Regions from separate parts of the Homo sapiens genome. Here region 2 is linked to region 1. Evidence: fine-mapped expression QTL. A gene starts in region 1. The other region holds a variant in brackets. All regions are shown on one strand. Distances are between the middles of the regions. Region 1 holds the start of RARB (retinoic acid receptor beta). Region 2 overlaps RARB (retinoic acid receptor beta).

Region 1 (8,395 bases):
ACATGCTTTTTCTTTTCTAAGTTGCACATCAATACTCACTCCCTTGTCAAATGTACCAATTTATCCAATATTCACAATATGATTTCTTTTTTTCTACAAGGAAGGAAAACTTTGTGAATCTTTCACTTGTTTTCGAACAACCCACAACCCTGCCTGTACTCTCTTTGCGATTTAAGGAAAAGTCCCTCTTTTTCTCTTCTTTCTGATGGTATTAGTTACCACCGTCATGTGCCCGAGAAGCAGAAAATTATGTCCTACTTTAGAAAAACAATTGGGCCTTTTCACTGAAATATTTATTCAAAACCCCATTCAATTCATACGGTGGCTGTCAGTCTTTATTTAGTCTTTCTTTCAGAGGGTATCTTTGATTTTGCCACTTTGACCCCAATTTATATCTCACTAGGAGAGGATTTAGATACTGTTTAATACTTAAAATTTGGGTCCCAGGGCTTTGAAAAGAGGCCTTTTCTCATTCCCTAATCAAACATCACTACTGGTTGTTTTAAAAATAATTTCTTCTCATTAATGGGCAAAGTCCTATTTCAAAAAGAAAATATTTTTTTCTTTTTCCTTTTGATGTGTTGAGTAGGGAGAAAAGACAGGGAAAAAGGCCAAGAAGTTGTCACACTCGTTATTTCACCAAAGCAACTATATTTAGACCACAAAATATTAAGATTTATCCTATACCCACTGAGCAATTAATGTTGAAAACATCTGGAGCCGCCTAAAACCAAGATAATCCTGGAGACATCTGAACAGAAATTTAGTGACTCCTATACCTTCCAGGGGCAGTCGTCAATCGTAATATTTAGACCACATTCCCTTAGTAGTCCCCTAATCCTGACTTTGAATGCTTATAAGAAGCAATTCACAGACACTACTACAAATGGCAGCTGGCTGGCATATCATTTTTCTGCCTTTAAAATTAAAAAGAAAATAAAGGGAATATTTTAACACCTTTCAAAGTGAGCTTGTGATGGTGTGCTCCATGTTCAAAGGTCTTACTTTATTTACTATGCATACACACACACACCATAAAAAAAACTCAAAGCAGAAAATAGTTTTGGTTGGAATTTAGTACTTTTTCTTCTTTGCCCACTGTTTCCTCTGTGTTAAAAGCAAAAACAGATCTGCTTCTCGTCAAAATAGCCATTAAGTAAAATGGAAAAGGTTGTGGTTATGTTCTTACTTACACAAATGTAGCCCTAATATACTTTTATTTCAATAGCCCTAACTAGCTGTACCACCCTGAACCAAACACTGCATGGCACAAGACATTTGTTAGAATCTCTAAAAAAAAAAAAAAAAAAAAGTTTTAGTTTTATTTATGCTAAAAAAAAAAAAAAATCGTTGGAACAACTGACCATCATAAAGTGGTTTATGAGGGTAAAGCAACTCTGCAAGGGCACAAGCAATATTTACATTTTATTCATTTAACCTAAAGTTGGGGTGTGGGATTCAAACTCTTGTGAAACTGACCACAATAAGAACTAATTGCCCTGCTTACAAAAATAAGACACTGGAATTTCTGAAATCCCTTTGTCAAATGCCTTTATTTACTTTGTCTAATGCAAGTTTCTTTGATTAGCTAAACTTTGCTGTTATCAACACTTCTTGCTTATCGGGTAGTTTTAGGCGAATGACACATTCACCGCTCGCTCTCCCTAGATAAAGCAAATCCCTTGTTTAACTTGTCCAAGAACAAACAAAGCTTTTCCCCCTACTCTTACAACTTAATAGGCATCTTTGGAAGGTTAATTACAAAAGGAAGAATGTCTACATGTAAAAACTCTATTAGGTCTAATAACTTTTGGCGAGGATCCTGAGCATATTTTTTCCTTCTGTTAAAAAACATGTTTCATTACCACTTTCTCTAACAAGAAAAAGTTTCAGAGAGCCCCAGTTCCCTGGGATTCCAACAGAAATTGTTCATACTGTTTTAATTGCTACAAAGAGGACAGGTCTGAAAAGTCTCTTCTTGGATTAGAAAATTATTTTGTAACACTCCAGTTTCTTTGAGTTCTCCAGAAATAAAATGGGCACCAAAAAAGAAAAGGCATTTGGGGAGCAGCTGAAGATTAAGGCGCCTTCTGAAAACGATATTCTTTTTGCCCTGCTTATGGCTCTACAAAATGTTAAGTCAGACAGCCAGGCTGTTGGCATCAAATGGTTATTGATTTTTCAGCTACAAACCTGTTGATTTCCCGGCCCAAGAAGCAAGTCTTTATTCTTAAGAAAAAGTTTCAGAGAGGGCAATTTAAATCCTGTCATTGTCCCCTCTCCCCTTTTTCTTCTCTCTTTAGATAAGCCACCATGTTATTAGGAAAACTCAATTTCTTCCAGTTAAACTTTGACCTCTTTGAAAACAAAGATTTAAAATGTCATTTTCAGGCTAATGCTCCAATGAATTGTCAAATAAAGTACTAAAAACATTTTGATAGATAGCTGAGCCATTTATCTAAATCACTGTCAGGGCGGCGAAGCATCCTGCAGGCTCCCACTACAGCCACCCGAAGGTGGGATTTTCTGGGACTCCTGATCATTTCTCAAGCCTGCAGCCAGGCTACTGTTGACCAGGTGCGTACCTCGGCACTGTGTCAGCATCAGATAACAAAATAGTCAATATTTTTTTTTTAAATTGGGCTACCCCACTTATATTTCCTTTCCTTTAACTGATGTCCACGTTCCGGGCTGAACTGCAAGATATGGAAATAATGGATGGCTCAGTCCAAGGGGTGTTCATTGCCAGTAGTTTTCTAGCAAAACAGCAACTTCTTAGACCAACAAAGTGACTTGGAAAGGTGGCAGCAGGGTCAATGCTAAGAAATATTGCCTTTCCTTAGCAAGGAAAACATTGGAAGCGGCAGCTTGAACTGGTGGTTTATGAACTTCGGGAGCAGCAGCCACCTTAATTAAACTAAATTCCTTTCAAGGAAAATGTCATATTTTAATTACTTTGGACTGTTGGAATACACAAGGGGTGGGGGGACCTATACAACTAGTAGCTAATCCAAAGAACAGCAAAGTTAAATTCCACTCTGCATACATTTTAGTAAAAACTGCAAAATGTGTCAAATTGCCCTACTTGAAGAATGTTTTAAAGTCTTGTGGTCACCCTCTACTCCCCACCCCCCACATTTTTATGCATATTTTAAAAACTGTTTTCAAGAGACTATAAGGTTGGTAAGGAGAGGAGCATGGGGGCGGGAGGGGTTATTTGGGAAGAAAACATCTAACAGGAAATTTTCAGCAAAGGGAATCAATATGCATGCCAGCATATCACACCCCTTCAGCATTAAATCATTAAATCCTTTGTCTTGCTACCAATGCAGTTTATTTCCAACGTCTTTATTGCATGCAAGAGAGACAATTTTTTTTTTCTTGGTAGAAGAAGGGAAAAAAATAAACCTACATTGAGCAGTGTGCCGATGCTGCCATTCGGTTTGGGTCAATCCACTGAAGCATGCTTTGAGAGCTTTCTCCTGGAGCATGCAGGAAGACGGACTCGCAGTGTAGAAATCCAGGATTTGCCCAGGACTCACTGACAGAACATCCATACAGTCAAACATGATCTCCCTTGCACTGAATGTCTGCAAAAGTGCTTATCCTCTAGGTGTGGAGGCAAATGGCATAGAAAAGTCCACCCAACTCCATCAAACTCTGCCCCTTTTTTGGCACGTAGGCTGTTGGTCTTTTTCCCAGCCCCGAATCATGAATTATGACAGACAAGCCAGCTAAAAGCCTGTAATTGATCCAAATGATCATTTACCATTTTCCAGGCTTGCTCGGCCAATCCAGCCGGGGCGGGGGGTTCCCAGAAAGATCCCAAGTTCTCCTTCCAAGTAAATGCTTGCAAAAAGCCTTCCGAATGCGTTCCGGATCCTACCCCGACGGTGCCCAGACAAACCCTGCTCGGATCGCTCGCGTTCTCGGCATCCCAGTCCTCAAACAGCTCGCATGGGGGAATTCTGGTCCCCCCTTTGGCAAAGAATAGACCCTCCTGCCTCTGAACAGCTCACTTCCTACTACTTCTGTCACACAGAATGAAAGATTGAATTGCCTAATATATGCGAGTGAACTTTCGGTGAACCCTACCCGGGCTGCTAACCTTCAAATGACCCAACTAGTCTGACATCACCAACTCCCAGGATTCTCACAGAGCTTAAAAACTCCCAGCAGCCCTGCAAAAGCAGACAGCCAGAGAGGCAGGCAGCGAGCGCACAAGCCGGCGTTTTCTTTCCTATTTCTCACCTTAAAAACAATACAAGAAGTGCTTTTAAAATGAGCAGGGGAGGAGCCGGGACGCTGCTCCTGGCTCACGTTGAGCACCAACTTCTCTCCCTTTACGCCTTTTTATTTGCGGCGGCTTAGCTTGGAAAACGGTGTTCCGCCTGCGCCCGCTCGCCTCCCGCCCACCGCCTCGCCCCCCAGCCCACACTTTAAATTCCTCTGTGCGCCTTTCTGTCTGTTAAATTCCTTATAACTTATGTATTTTTCCACTCCAGAAAAAGCACATGCAAGCCCTAAACTGTAGAACAGAGAATGGCTACCCCTTGGGAAAGGCTTGGGTTGGGAAACTTTCCATTCCACAGTCTTTTTCTCTTTCTCCCTCTTGCAAGCCCCTGGCTGAATTGACTGCACTCGTTTGCTCTGCAATCCAGCTTTCGAGATTCATTTACTTTGAAAAATCCTCTCCAGGTTCTATGCAGCATATAGAGTAGTCAGGAATTGGTTACCCCTGTCCCAAACACACAGCCACACAGAAAATGAGATTTCAGATCTGGACTTGAAAAAACAGTATAGTGGTCAAGAGCATGGGTTGGGGAATCAAACTGAACTAGATTCCAATTCCAGGTCTGCCACTTACCAGCTGTGTGTTCTGGGATAAGTATTTAACTTCTTCAGGCTTCAGTTTCCTCATCTGTAAAATGGGCATATAATACTACCCACGTCAGTGTTAACTGGGAGGACAGAAATAACACTTGTATGGTGCTGGGTAAATATCATGGAACAAATGTTAGCTGTGACTCATCCTCATACTGTTCAACTGGTGAAACAAAACCCCGGGGAGATGAGACCTACCCAAGGTCACACAGCTCAGAGCTGTGACTAGAACCCAGCTCCCTAGGATGAAAGTCCAATGTGAAAATTACTTGCCTGTTCCCACATCCTTGCACCCCAAATAGCCATGTTGGTTGCCTCTCTCATCATACACCTACACACATCCCACCACATAATTAAACGCATATTTTGTAAACTGGTTTAAGTATGACAGTTTTACATTTTGAAGGACCAGTTTTCTCTCATTCCAGCCCCTGCCCAATCCTTTTATTAAAATACAGTAATTTTAAGGGAAAATGATTTTTTAGATCTCTCACACTGACCCAACCTACAGGAAGAAGAGTCTTTCCAGCCAGTCCTAAAACACTAAGAAGGATAGATGCAGTATTTACAAATAAACCCAGCCGGATGGAGAGCTTTAAAAGGGAGAGCCAATCTACCCTGCAGCCATTTTGCACAACTTGTTTAAAGGATGCAACATACATCAAATAAAGGAAACTCTGGAGAGGAATTAAAACACCCTTTTTTCTCCACTGCCTCTGTAGCATTTACTTGTAATTCTCCCACAAAACAGGGCAGGCAAGTGGTTAGGCAGGGAGGGAGAGTCTCCTTGCCCAATGCAGGGAAGAGCACTGCTCCAGTCTCCTTTTTGTGGATAGTGTTGGAATGTGCATTGGCATCCGGGCCTTTTAAAAGCCTGTCAGGGGGCACCCCACCCCATGCTGAAACACTGCCCTGTCTAGTGGAGTTGCTAAGTGGCACTTGTGGTGTAACATGAAAAGTATGCATCGCACACACTTACCAAGTCAAAGATCCTTTTATGAAGGTACATTAAAACAATTTTCAGCCCAGCAAGCTCAGTTCTTGCTATTGAAAAGTTCAGGGCAATAAAGGGGTGAGATTTTTGCTGAATCTGTGTTTGTTATTTTTGCGCCTCTCTTCTCTCTTTTATATGGCCATCATTTTGTAACAGAGACTTATTGTAAGAAACCCTTTAACTACAAAGAAAACACACATTTTAAGCAAGAGAACACAGAGGAATTTACAAAACATTTAACACACTGTCATTAAGGTAGTTGTAAAGATACACAAAGCACTACATTATGTGCCAATTTCTACTTGGTCCATGAGGCTTATGGCTCCAAATGCTTATTTAAGGTCCTTAGAGTTCCTTGGAAACTGAGTTCATTTTTACCGGACAGTGGAGGTGGATGAAAAGTTGTTAGACAAGAGAAGAGGAAACAGCTATATTGGAAGTAGAGCAGGAGAAACTTAAGTTAGAGATGAGAAACATGGCATCACTGACAGGTATGTGTGTACAGGGATCTGTTATCCAGGGGAGGCTGCTGCACATTCTTGCTTAACATCTCTCCAAAGAGTAGAGATGCACTGGTCCCAGGGAAGTGAAGATGGGGATGGGTGTCCTCAAAATTCTGTTCATTCTCATTTCTTAAGCTATGGAATCAGCCTCATTGAGCGAGACCACTGCTTCCGAATTTCTTACCTCTATACTGTATCATTGCACAAAAATAACAACATTAGTGTGTCTCTCTCTGTGTGTGGTAAAGGTTGGGCGACTCGATGTTTTCTTTCTTTGTGCAAGAAAATGTAAAATATATAATTACCTTGAAGTTCTCAACTGAGAAATGAACTTGGGCCTTGAAATGAATAATCAGTATTTAAATCCCCATGAAAGGAATAGTATGGGTTTCTTATAATATGACAATATTCGCTAGTCAATTAATCATTCCTCATCATGAATTAATTATGCTGATAGCAATAATTAGAGCTATTACTTAATCCAAGTATTAATTTATAAAACAGACCCATGATTTAGCCACATGCTAATTATTTCTTCATCAGTAAATGCTTACACTTCTTGAAAACTTGATTCTGTCTCCAAATTCTTCATTTTAAGTAAAATGAAGGAAAGATACATAAATAAGCCATAATTCTTTAAATACAGATCCGTGCACTATAAAGATTAATGAGTAGGGTAGAAAGTGAAAAATAGACCGATTTGTCCGTAATGAAATGTAAACTACTGACACCCATTTTAAACATTAGCCACAGGGTTGGAAGAAACTTTCCCAAATATCTTCTTGTTATGGCATAAAATAACATTCTGATATGTGTCATCTCTATTTTCTTTGTGTTTGATCAATGATCTAATAAATGTATTTCCAACCAACAAGCAAACAAAAAGTGAAAAACAAAAAGCAAAACTTTGAGAGTAAAATCCATTTTGTTTCAGAGTAACTGTATATTTGTCAGTGTGACACAGCACATTTGAAACCCATAATCATAAAACAAAAATTTATAGCCAGGGTTCAGGGTCTACATCTGTTTCTCTGGTTTTCGTACAGCAATTACCCACTGGACAATCCAGAAAGAAACACCATGAATCATGCTCTGCAAACATGTTTGAACTGGAGAGTTTTCTGAAGAAAGAGCAGTCGTGTCTGTGCACCGTACTGCAGCCGGCTGTGTTCAAAATTGGGCTAATACCTTGTGATGTCTAAATAAGAAGATTTTCAGAGGCGCAGACATATCCCCCCCCACCACAGGGGCAGACATGCAAAGTGCAGGCAGACACAGGCACAGGGCTGGGGGAGGTGGACACTGATTGTTTTAAAGACATGCCCAGCTCTTTCATGTTGTTTTGGCTTTTTGTTTGTTTTTTAATTTTTTTTCCCTGTTAATCCCCTCTTGCCACAGTTCTGCCAGAAGAATAAATGGCTAGTACTGAGTGACTTGTGTGTTCCAGCAGGGAAGCCAAGGCAGAGATGTTGGCAGCACGAGGCAAGTATGAGGCTCTTCCCAGGGCTTCCATACTAGCAGGCAGAGCTGCTTTTGTGTTGGAAGGGAGCGGGGGAAGTTCTAACAGTAATAACACATGGAAACTTTGCTTGTGGCCCTTCAGTATGAACACCTGCTCACATAACAGGACTGTTGATGTTCGTGGATCTTATACCAAAAGACACCAATGCACTTTCCAAATGAACTTGCAAGGTGGCTCTGGGCATGAGTATAGCGACTTCTTAGAAACCCTAGAAACACATCTTCTTCAAAAATGTCTTTTTACTTTGAGTGTTGGCCACCGTGTCCTTCATTTGGCTCTTTTCTCTTCAGCTCTCTGCTTTTTCAGACTTTCCTCCACAAAGTCTTCCTACTTGGTTACACACAAATATTGTTCTCCCAAGACAAGGGCATACTTTTCTCTTTCCACATTTCTGAATTATTTTCTTTAGTGCTTCTGTGCTTTCTGCCGTCGATGACTCATAAAGACAGCTCTTCAAGCCCAACAGTTTCGGTTGGTTCCAACTTGAAAGTT
Region 2 (8,395 bases), 59 kb before region 1:
TCTTTTTCCTTTATGAGGACGTGGCAGTCTTGGATAGTCTCGGATAGTCTCTCTTCTCTTCTGGTTGACCTTATGTTTAAAGACTGTAGATCAGACAGAATTAAGTAGTTCACTGTAATCACACTCATTCTCCCACAGGATCCCCTTGGGATGCCTCTGAGAAATTCCACGACCTGAGTAAAAGCTAGAAAGAAAAACCTTACAGGAGGGGTTTTATGTTTTACTACTGGGCTTTATTTTTGTAGTGTAAAAGGGACTTGGGGGTGGGGGTGCAGGGGGAGTGGGAGAAGCCAAAAGAACACAAAGAACTTCTTTGAAACTAGATAAAATTTCCTTCGAAACAGCACACATATCTACGCACGGTTTCAAGAGGATATCTTAAAGTTCATTATAAATCCCCTAGGTGTCTCTGACCACTACTTGGAAGCCACTGAAATAAAGGTGACTTAAAAAGAAGGTGAAGAGTATGAGGTTGAGTAGTTACCCAAAGAATTTCTGTGCAGTAGGCTAAATATCATAAATATGATATCTTGCGGACTACTTTGTCTCTTCTCAAGAGTTTGAATTAAGATGTGGTAGGAAGAAAAACTGTATGACAAGGGGAAACGAAGCCTCTAAAATGCAAGATTTCGCTCTTCTCCACATGCTTTCTTTAAATCTGGTTCTGAGAATTTGAACCAACTAAAGACATCTGTTTTCTAAATTACTTAGGTCAGTTATTTTGTGCCCTTCCTTGGTGAAATCCATAGTTACCGATCTATTATCAGGATTACTCTAAGTATAACACGGCAAGAAGCCAATGAATTTTAAGTTTTTAAATTTTCAATTATTTTATTGAAAAAAAAATGCAACAAAATAGCTGCTCAGCTACAGCCCAGGAGTTAGCGGACCCCAGCTGCTTTGTACATTAATTACTAAATCTCATCTGGACCCAAATTAAATTTTCTCATCTGTACTGAGAAGCGGGGGAGAAAAAGGTAAGCAGAAGGAGAGAGAGCCAAAACATGCTCATATATACTGAAACCCTTTACCAAAGAGCATGAATTTTAAAATCTCTTTTAGAAGTTTGGTATGCAACATTTGGCCATTAACAAAACCAGAACATGGCTCTACCATAACATGCTGGTTGACGGCAAGGCACATCACCATGGCGATGCTGCATATTGCATAATTCAAAGGCCTCTCACAGACCCAAATAATTATGATGTACTTGTATTGCTTTATAATGTTAAGGACCTAAATTAGTACAGAAAAATAAATGCTTGTCTAGAGCTTGGTGCATTTTTTCCAAGTCTATTTAATTTTCAGGGCCATGTTGGAATCTTCTCACTGGAATTTTTCTCGCTTATACATGGTTCCATCCCGAACCTGGAGTAAAAAGGAAAAACTCATAGAGTCTATGAGAATGGGAGAAGGAAAGCTAGTCAGGCATTTACATTTAAGTCAAGTCTGACAACTGAAAAATAACAGGGATTTATTGGATGTAGCCTTCTGCTTCTCTTCACCACAGACACTGCTCTGACAGTGCAAAAATCTCACTAAGTTTATTGAGAAAATATTACTTAAGCTCCAGCTCTCAAAATGGATTCTGTCCTTGTATGGAAAAGCTGTGGTGAGTCCAGGCTGACGCCTGATAATGCTAAGAGTATCGACCTCTACACACTGAGATCAGCAATGAAATGGTTTAAAGCCCACCTGCCCCTCAAAGTTGCTCATGCCTTTGTCCAGTCATACTTACCCAGGCCCCCCAAACCTAGAGTGTTTTCTCTCTGCTCAGTGCCTTTCCACAGGCCCTAGGACTTGAAAGTCCTTTCCCTGCCTTGTTCTTTGGTTCAGGACTGCTCATGCTCCAAAATACAGCCCCCAAGAGGGGTCAGGCTCCCGCCAAGCCCCCACTACCAGCATATGCTGTTGGAACATTCTCTCTACAACAGTGCAACAATTGATCTTTGTGTCTCTTTCTTCTTTGAAACCGGAGTCCTTTGCAGGCAGGGATGTAACAATCTTTTTTTGTGATGGAGTATATGCAACTTTTATAATTAAAGAATAATATCATATGGATATTCCATGTAGAAGGAAAAGGAAGAAAAGGAAGATCAGCAAAGAAATGTAAATTTAAACCAAAATACTTTATATGCAAGGAAAGGAAGAAGGAAGTTATATTTTCATTGGTAAAACTCTAATATCATAAATTCAGGCAGCAATGTTAACTTACTGATTTATTCCAAATTAGCAAAAAATAGGCTCAAATTTCACCCACAGGCTCCTCTTTCTTGATCCTTAAAATTAAAGTAGCTATATTATGTCAGCACAGTGCCAAGATTTGAAATTAAATAGGTCCCCAATGCAAAAGAAAAAGTTCTTTTAAACAACATGAACTTGTCTGCAATTAGCACATTATAGCTTCCACCTAAGCACCATGCTATATGAAAATACACTCCTGGAGCTGCTGCTGTTTCAAAGACCTTAAGCTGTGCACTTTCTGAAGTTGTTTTGTAGGAGAACATTTAACAGAACACACACAATTAATTTTTTAAGTGTTACCTCTCTGCTTTTCCATTTCATACCTGACTTTAGTTGATAAAAAGAGGAGCAGCCTTTTGATTACACTGGAGAGAAGGGGAAAAACAGTCTCCGTAATAAAAGAGGTACCTGCCAATTAGTTAGATTGTTCTCCAGTTTTCAATTAAAGGCAGCCTAATGGATGTAGGGGGACCTGTTTTATTTTCCCTGACAGAGCCCTTATTTTTAAACTCTTAGCTTCATTTTCCAAAATTGCTGGCTTTAGACAGAAGAAACATATATCTTGAGTGAAAAGCTGTACTGTTCTTCTTCTATTTCCTGTATCAAAATTACATTTTTCTCCTCAGTGGCTACTTCCCATCTGGCCCACAAAGCTTTCTGCTGCCCAGGATGGGCTTGTTAACGGATGGTGGTCCCTGATGCTATAACCCACTCCAAAAGATGGGGTGTCAGACCCTGCCCCCAGGCCAGGAAGCCTCATCTAGGAGCTTTGGGGGTGTTTCAGCCTAATTTTGCTTTCCTCAGGTGATCATTCCATGGAACGTCATTTACCCTTCTCATTTTCTCCAGAAGGACAAAAGAGATAACTTAGGAGGGAGTGTTTATTTTGAACTCATCCAAAAGCACTTCAGTCTCTCCTAAGCATCAGCCTGTGGATGAAATTTGGGAATTATTTTCCTTAGATGAAACAGGACTGAACATTTCCTTGGACATGGCTGGCCTTCTTCCTCGGAACACACACATATTCAAGATTGATATTTTTATTCAGAGTTTTCTCAAATGAATAATTAGGAGATGTTCACAGGCAGGTGTAGGAAAAAGAGCCGGGCCCCCGTAAATCATGATTAAACTACATTTAACCACCAAAGATCTGAACCACCTCTTGTTAACAGCTTAGCAGTTTTGTTTCTGTGGGATAGCACAGTCCCTAGACTTTGGGGAATTGTGGGGCCAATTCCCCATACTGTCAACAGTAGTTATAGCAGCTGAATAAATCCCTCCAGATTGGACCAACCACTCCCTCCAGGCTGGAAAATAAGCCATGAATCACATTATCCTGGTAACTTGAGATTTAACATATCTATAGAGGGAAGATATAAAGCTTCATGTATTAATTCCTATTTGTTTTCAACATCACCTGAAGTTTAGTTGGTTCAAACCAAAGATGGCTACAAGAGGCACATTAGAACAGAGCATGACGCCTTAGTGAGCATTAGAATAGACCCCGTGAAA[G/A]CACCAGGCAGTGACACAAAAGTAATGCTTTCATCCTGCCAAGAAAACAGAAAGGTGTTTTAGGAGCCCCTCAGAAGGAGATTCTGAATTAATGTGTAATTTCAGGTTTCCAAATGGCTTTTATGAGCTTGCTTACCCAAAGTATTTCAGAACATCATCTCTTTTAATTTTTAATTTTTATCCGCTCAAAGCTCCAAAAATATACTGATCTGAATCATTGCCTCTCATCTTGTTATCTTAATGGGGGAAGGATAGAGTATCATGCCGACCATTCCGCATTAGGTGTCCTCATTTACAGATTGAAAAAAAAAAAAAAAGTGCCGGACATAAATTATTTAAAATCTATTGTATCAGTGTGTGTTCTGTAAGCATTCACTACCGGCAAAGCAGACAGATTATTTTTCACTTTTAATTGTGTTGATACCTTATCTGCTTTGTTGAAAGCAGAGAGTGGTAGGTGAAACCACATCGCACGCTGAGGAACAGAGAAGCAATGGGGTCTATTATTTAAAGCCAAAGTAACCCATTTAGTGGACATAACTTTAACACACTTCCATGGAAGCGAAAACCTGGAGTTGCTATTTACGTCTGTAATGTGTGTCTATTACTGTGTCAAACGCGACTGAGGGTAGCACAGGGCCAGGCTTCTTAAGGAAGCTGTTAGCTGACTGCATCAGGGACACCAGACACCTCACATCACCATCCCAGCACAAAAGGAGAGAAAGTGTGTGACTGAGCAGGGGAACTAGTCCAGCATCCCTCCTCTCTCTCCTCTCCAAGTCTCAGGTGTGTTGTAAAGCAATGTAAATCAGAGGTCATCATAGGTATACTTGACCTAATCCAAACCTTGTCCTAATCTAAGAAAAATATTTAGAGTAAGAAGAATATACTTAGATAATAAAATTAATAATCTGTGACTGGAACCTGATTGAAATAAAATTATACAGAGGGATACAAGGATTCATTATTAGAAATTCAAAATTAGCCCTTCTCCCATTGTCCGTGAAGACCATCATCAGGAAATGCATATATGTGCTGGATATATCAGAATGTAGCCAAAAAAGTACCTCACCATTATCCGAATTTAAAAGACCCTTCCAAACTCAGCAACTTAGCAATTCATTTGGGTGAAGTGGCAGATGATGGTAGGGTATATACAGATAATGACTATAGAATTGTTCTGATGTAGTTTATTAAGTTGAAGACCTGTCATAACTCTAGCTTTTTGTATCCTCAGCACCAAATCCAGCACCTTGCCTGGCATTCAGTAAGTATTTGCTCACATGGATGGGTGGAAGGTTGCATGGGAGAGTGACTTCGTTGGCCAAATATCCTCTGCCAGGGCTGTAGGGTGGCTTAAGTGACTTCTACCTCTACCCAAGTAGAAGTCCAAAGGGCTCTAAGCTAGTCTACTTTCTTCCTTTAACTGGCTTTGTACTCTAAGCAAACAGTTGAACCATTTCTGTAGTTCCATTTCACAAGTCTGAAATGATCTCTACATGCCTTCTAGCACTGATATTTGAGATTTCCACGTGTCTTATTAAAGGAACACACACTCAGCATGTCTCCAACATAAGCCTTAGCTCTATACCTTTTGTGACACATGGCTGGTTTGGTAAGATCCAACGAGCTAAAGAAAGCCCAGTCTCCCAAATATGGGCCCTTTTTGCATTGACTCAAAATCCAGCAAAAAGACAACTCCCAGCAAAATACTCAAGTCAATAACCAGACACAAAATGGAACTGCATCATATCTGATATTTGTGAGTTTCATTTCCACACTGTCAAATATAATTCGTGGCAACCCACTTCAGTGAAAGCCCAATGTAAGCCACTGCACTGTTCTTACCCTCCAAACTCCACAACCCCAACCAGTGTGAGCTTCAAATTGAACTCCTGACCTTTCCAGCAATTATCCCCAGAATCTAGACAGCCCCATCATCACCTCAAGCCAACGTGTGAGAGGAGCAGCAGCCAGGAATGCTCTGCCTCTGTTCCCGAAGGGAACCAGAGTGAGAGAGGATCCTGCTTTCCTTTCCATCTGCTTTCTCCAATAAAAGGGAAAAAATAAATGGAAATGAAAAGTATACAATTAAAAAAAATTACATTTAACTTCCTTTTGCTAATGTCTGTAAGATGATTTTTGGCCTGGCAGGAGACTCCAGATGGGCCGTGTAATGAATATAATTTAATACAAAGAACCGGAGTTCACAGAAACACATTTTTCCAAGTCTGAAGGTAGTGGGTTGTCTCACACTGTTTAATGCAAAACACCAGGACAAGTTATTGCATTTATTTGCTGTTGCACATTGGCCTTTAAACCTAATATGAGTGGGGCTAGACCTGAAGCCATGAAACCAGAAGCTGTCACTCTCTGAGATGAGGCTGGCACCAGTGCACACTCACCCAAAAGGCCAGAGACCACTAACCACTCAATGTGTTTTTCCTCTGGGGTCTGAGGATTTATATCACCAATTAAGGCCATAATGAGTGCCCCAAGTTGACCTCCTAGGAGCAAGAATTAATTAAGCACAGTATTTCTTAGTAAAGAATGACATTTTTCCAAACGAGTTATATAAGGTGGCCACATTTTCTGATATTACTGTGCTTCTATGTACAATTCCTAATTGTTAACACAAATAGAATATTCCAGGAACACAGCTTAGTTTATGTTTTTAATTTGACAGTAAAAGAAAATAATTTTTACTTTTATCCTTATTTTGGAGGCAAAGAGAGTGTTTTGAGTGTATCGTGTGTGTGTGAAACACAAAATTATTTACATTAGTAATATAATATCACTTCTTTCAATTATTAATATGACTATAAATGAAGGAAGCTAAGACTCATATTTATAACCTTCCCAGCTTTCAAAAATGAAAAGTCATGTTTTAAACCCAGTTGTACTCCAGCATTCGTGTGTTTCCATAAATATGACAATGGAGGTTAAAAAAAAAATAGGTTAAAGCTTCCATTTTGTAAACTACACCTTAAATATCCTCATCCAGGGGTTGGCAGATTTCTATAAAGGGCCAAATAGAAACTCTTTAAGCTGTGGGCCAGAGACTTAGCTGCAAATACTCAACTCTACCATCACAGAATGAAAGCAATCATAGACAATACAGAAATGAATGGATTGGCTGTGTACCAAGAAAACTTTATAAACACTGAAATTGAATTTCATATAATTTTCATATGTTATATTAATTTTTTTTTCAAGCATTTAAAATGTAAAAAAAAATTCTTAGCTCTTGGCCATACAAAAACAGGCAGCAGACCCGGTTTAGCCTATGGGCCATAATTTGACAACCCCTGGCTAAAACATATGTATATTTTGTAGTAATCAGCGAGGTTGGAGAAAACACGGTCTCTTTCTCACTCTCTCACACATGCACACACGTACACATACACCCTAATTATCAACATCACGGTCTCAGAAACTATTGATGTACTACAGAAAAAATGTGGCTTCAAGCATGTCTCTTTTGCTATGAACCAGGACATGAAGAAAACCTCAGCCTTGAAGAAATGTTACAAGGGTGGTAGGAAAAAGACACCTCTTTCCTCCTCGCCCTTTCTCATAAAGAAAATTCCCACTCTAAATTAGAAATCATGTCTTTCCCTCCTTTAAGGAGTTAACATAGCCAGCACAGATCTGGAAATCCCTACAGCCTACTTGCCAATTAATGTATTTAACTCTAAAGAGCAGGAGTTTTTAATTTAGCTCATCCTTCACTAACGGAACATTTTGGTAGAAAATATTAGGATTTCCAAATAACTTTATAGCTCTGTAAATTGCCAACATACCATCTGCAATTGAATTAACATTTATAACCAAACTGAAATAATAAATAAAGCAAATTACGCTGCAAATATTTGTGAGTGCCCAATATGCACTTGAGAACGATAATTAGCATTTTATAATCACGCTTCATTTTCTTTATCCGACTCCCTGTCACATTAATGATAAAATATTTTAAACTGTGCTCTATCAGCAAATGGCAGTACAATCTCTAGATTAGCCATTAACTAACATGGAGAATGAACACAGTTTGTGCTGCTGACATTATGCACCCAGAAGTTTTACTCATAATCACATCCTCCAGTCTCCCTTGCTCTTATCTCTGGGTTTTGTTTTGTTTTCCTATGCTACCAAAACAAGGCTGAGAAAGCCAGTGCTTCATTTGCACCATCTGAACCAGAAGCTCTATGGGAACTAAAGCCACACACTCTCTTTTTTTGAGTGAAAAAAAAAAAAAAAAAAAAGAAGAAATATGATTTTAAAATTTATGACTTTCTGATCTAGAAAACCAGGGTCTAGAGGTCAAGAAGCTTAAGTCACTCAAATGGAATCACTCTTGTCCTCAAATAATTCCAAAGTTCTCTCTCATTATCATCTGACATCCTCTACCACAGTATGTGTGATTCTTTTTCTAGGTTCAAATAAATGTTAATTCAACTAAATAAACTAGTGAAGACTATATATGTACACATATTTTTTCAACTAAAATTTCTACCAATTAGCAAAATTTCCCCAAGTTTTCCCATTATCTTCCTTGAAAGTCAATTCCCTTAAAACAATTGTGTCCCGATGCTTTCTTGAATCATTTCTGCCTCTCGCTCCATGTCTGTTTGCACTTGAC

What was found. PIP is the estimated chance that this variant, and not a neighbour inherited with it, causes the effect. A credible set is the group of variants that fine-mapping cannot tell apart.
Region 2: its variant is the best candidate, but not a certain one, in a credible set for the expression of RARB in lung (TOPMed, PIP 0.83).

What each region holds. Positions count from the first base shown.
Region 1 is chr3:25,423,906-25,432,300 of GRCh38, reverse strand. It overlaps RARB (retinoic acid receptor beta), which reads right to left and starts at 4,038. Exons shown (of 8, transcript NM_000965.5): 1 at 3,413-4,038. The coding sequence starts at 3,569. RefSeq lists an enhancer at 4,140-4,977.
Region 2 is chr3:25,483,151-25,491,545 of GRCh38, reverse strand. The region is part of intron 2 of RARB (retinoic acid receptor beta); the gene reads right to left. Among named protein-coding and RNA genes, the nearest start is that of RARB, 59 kb to the right of the region's middle. The variant G/A (reference allele first, on the strand shown) is at 3,757.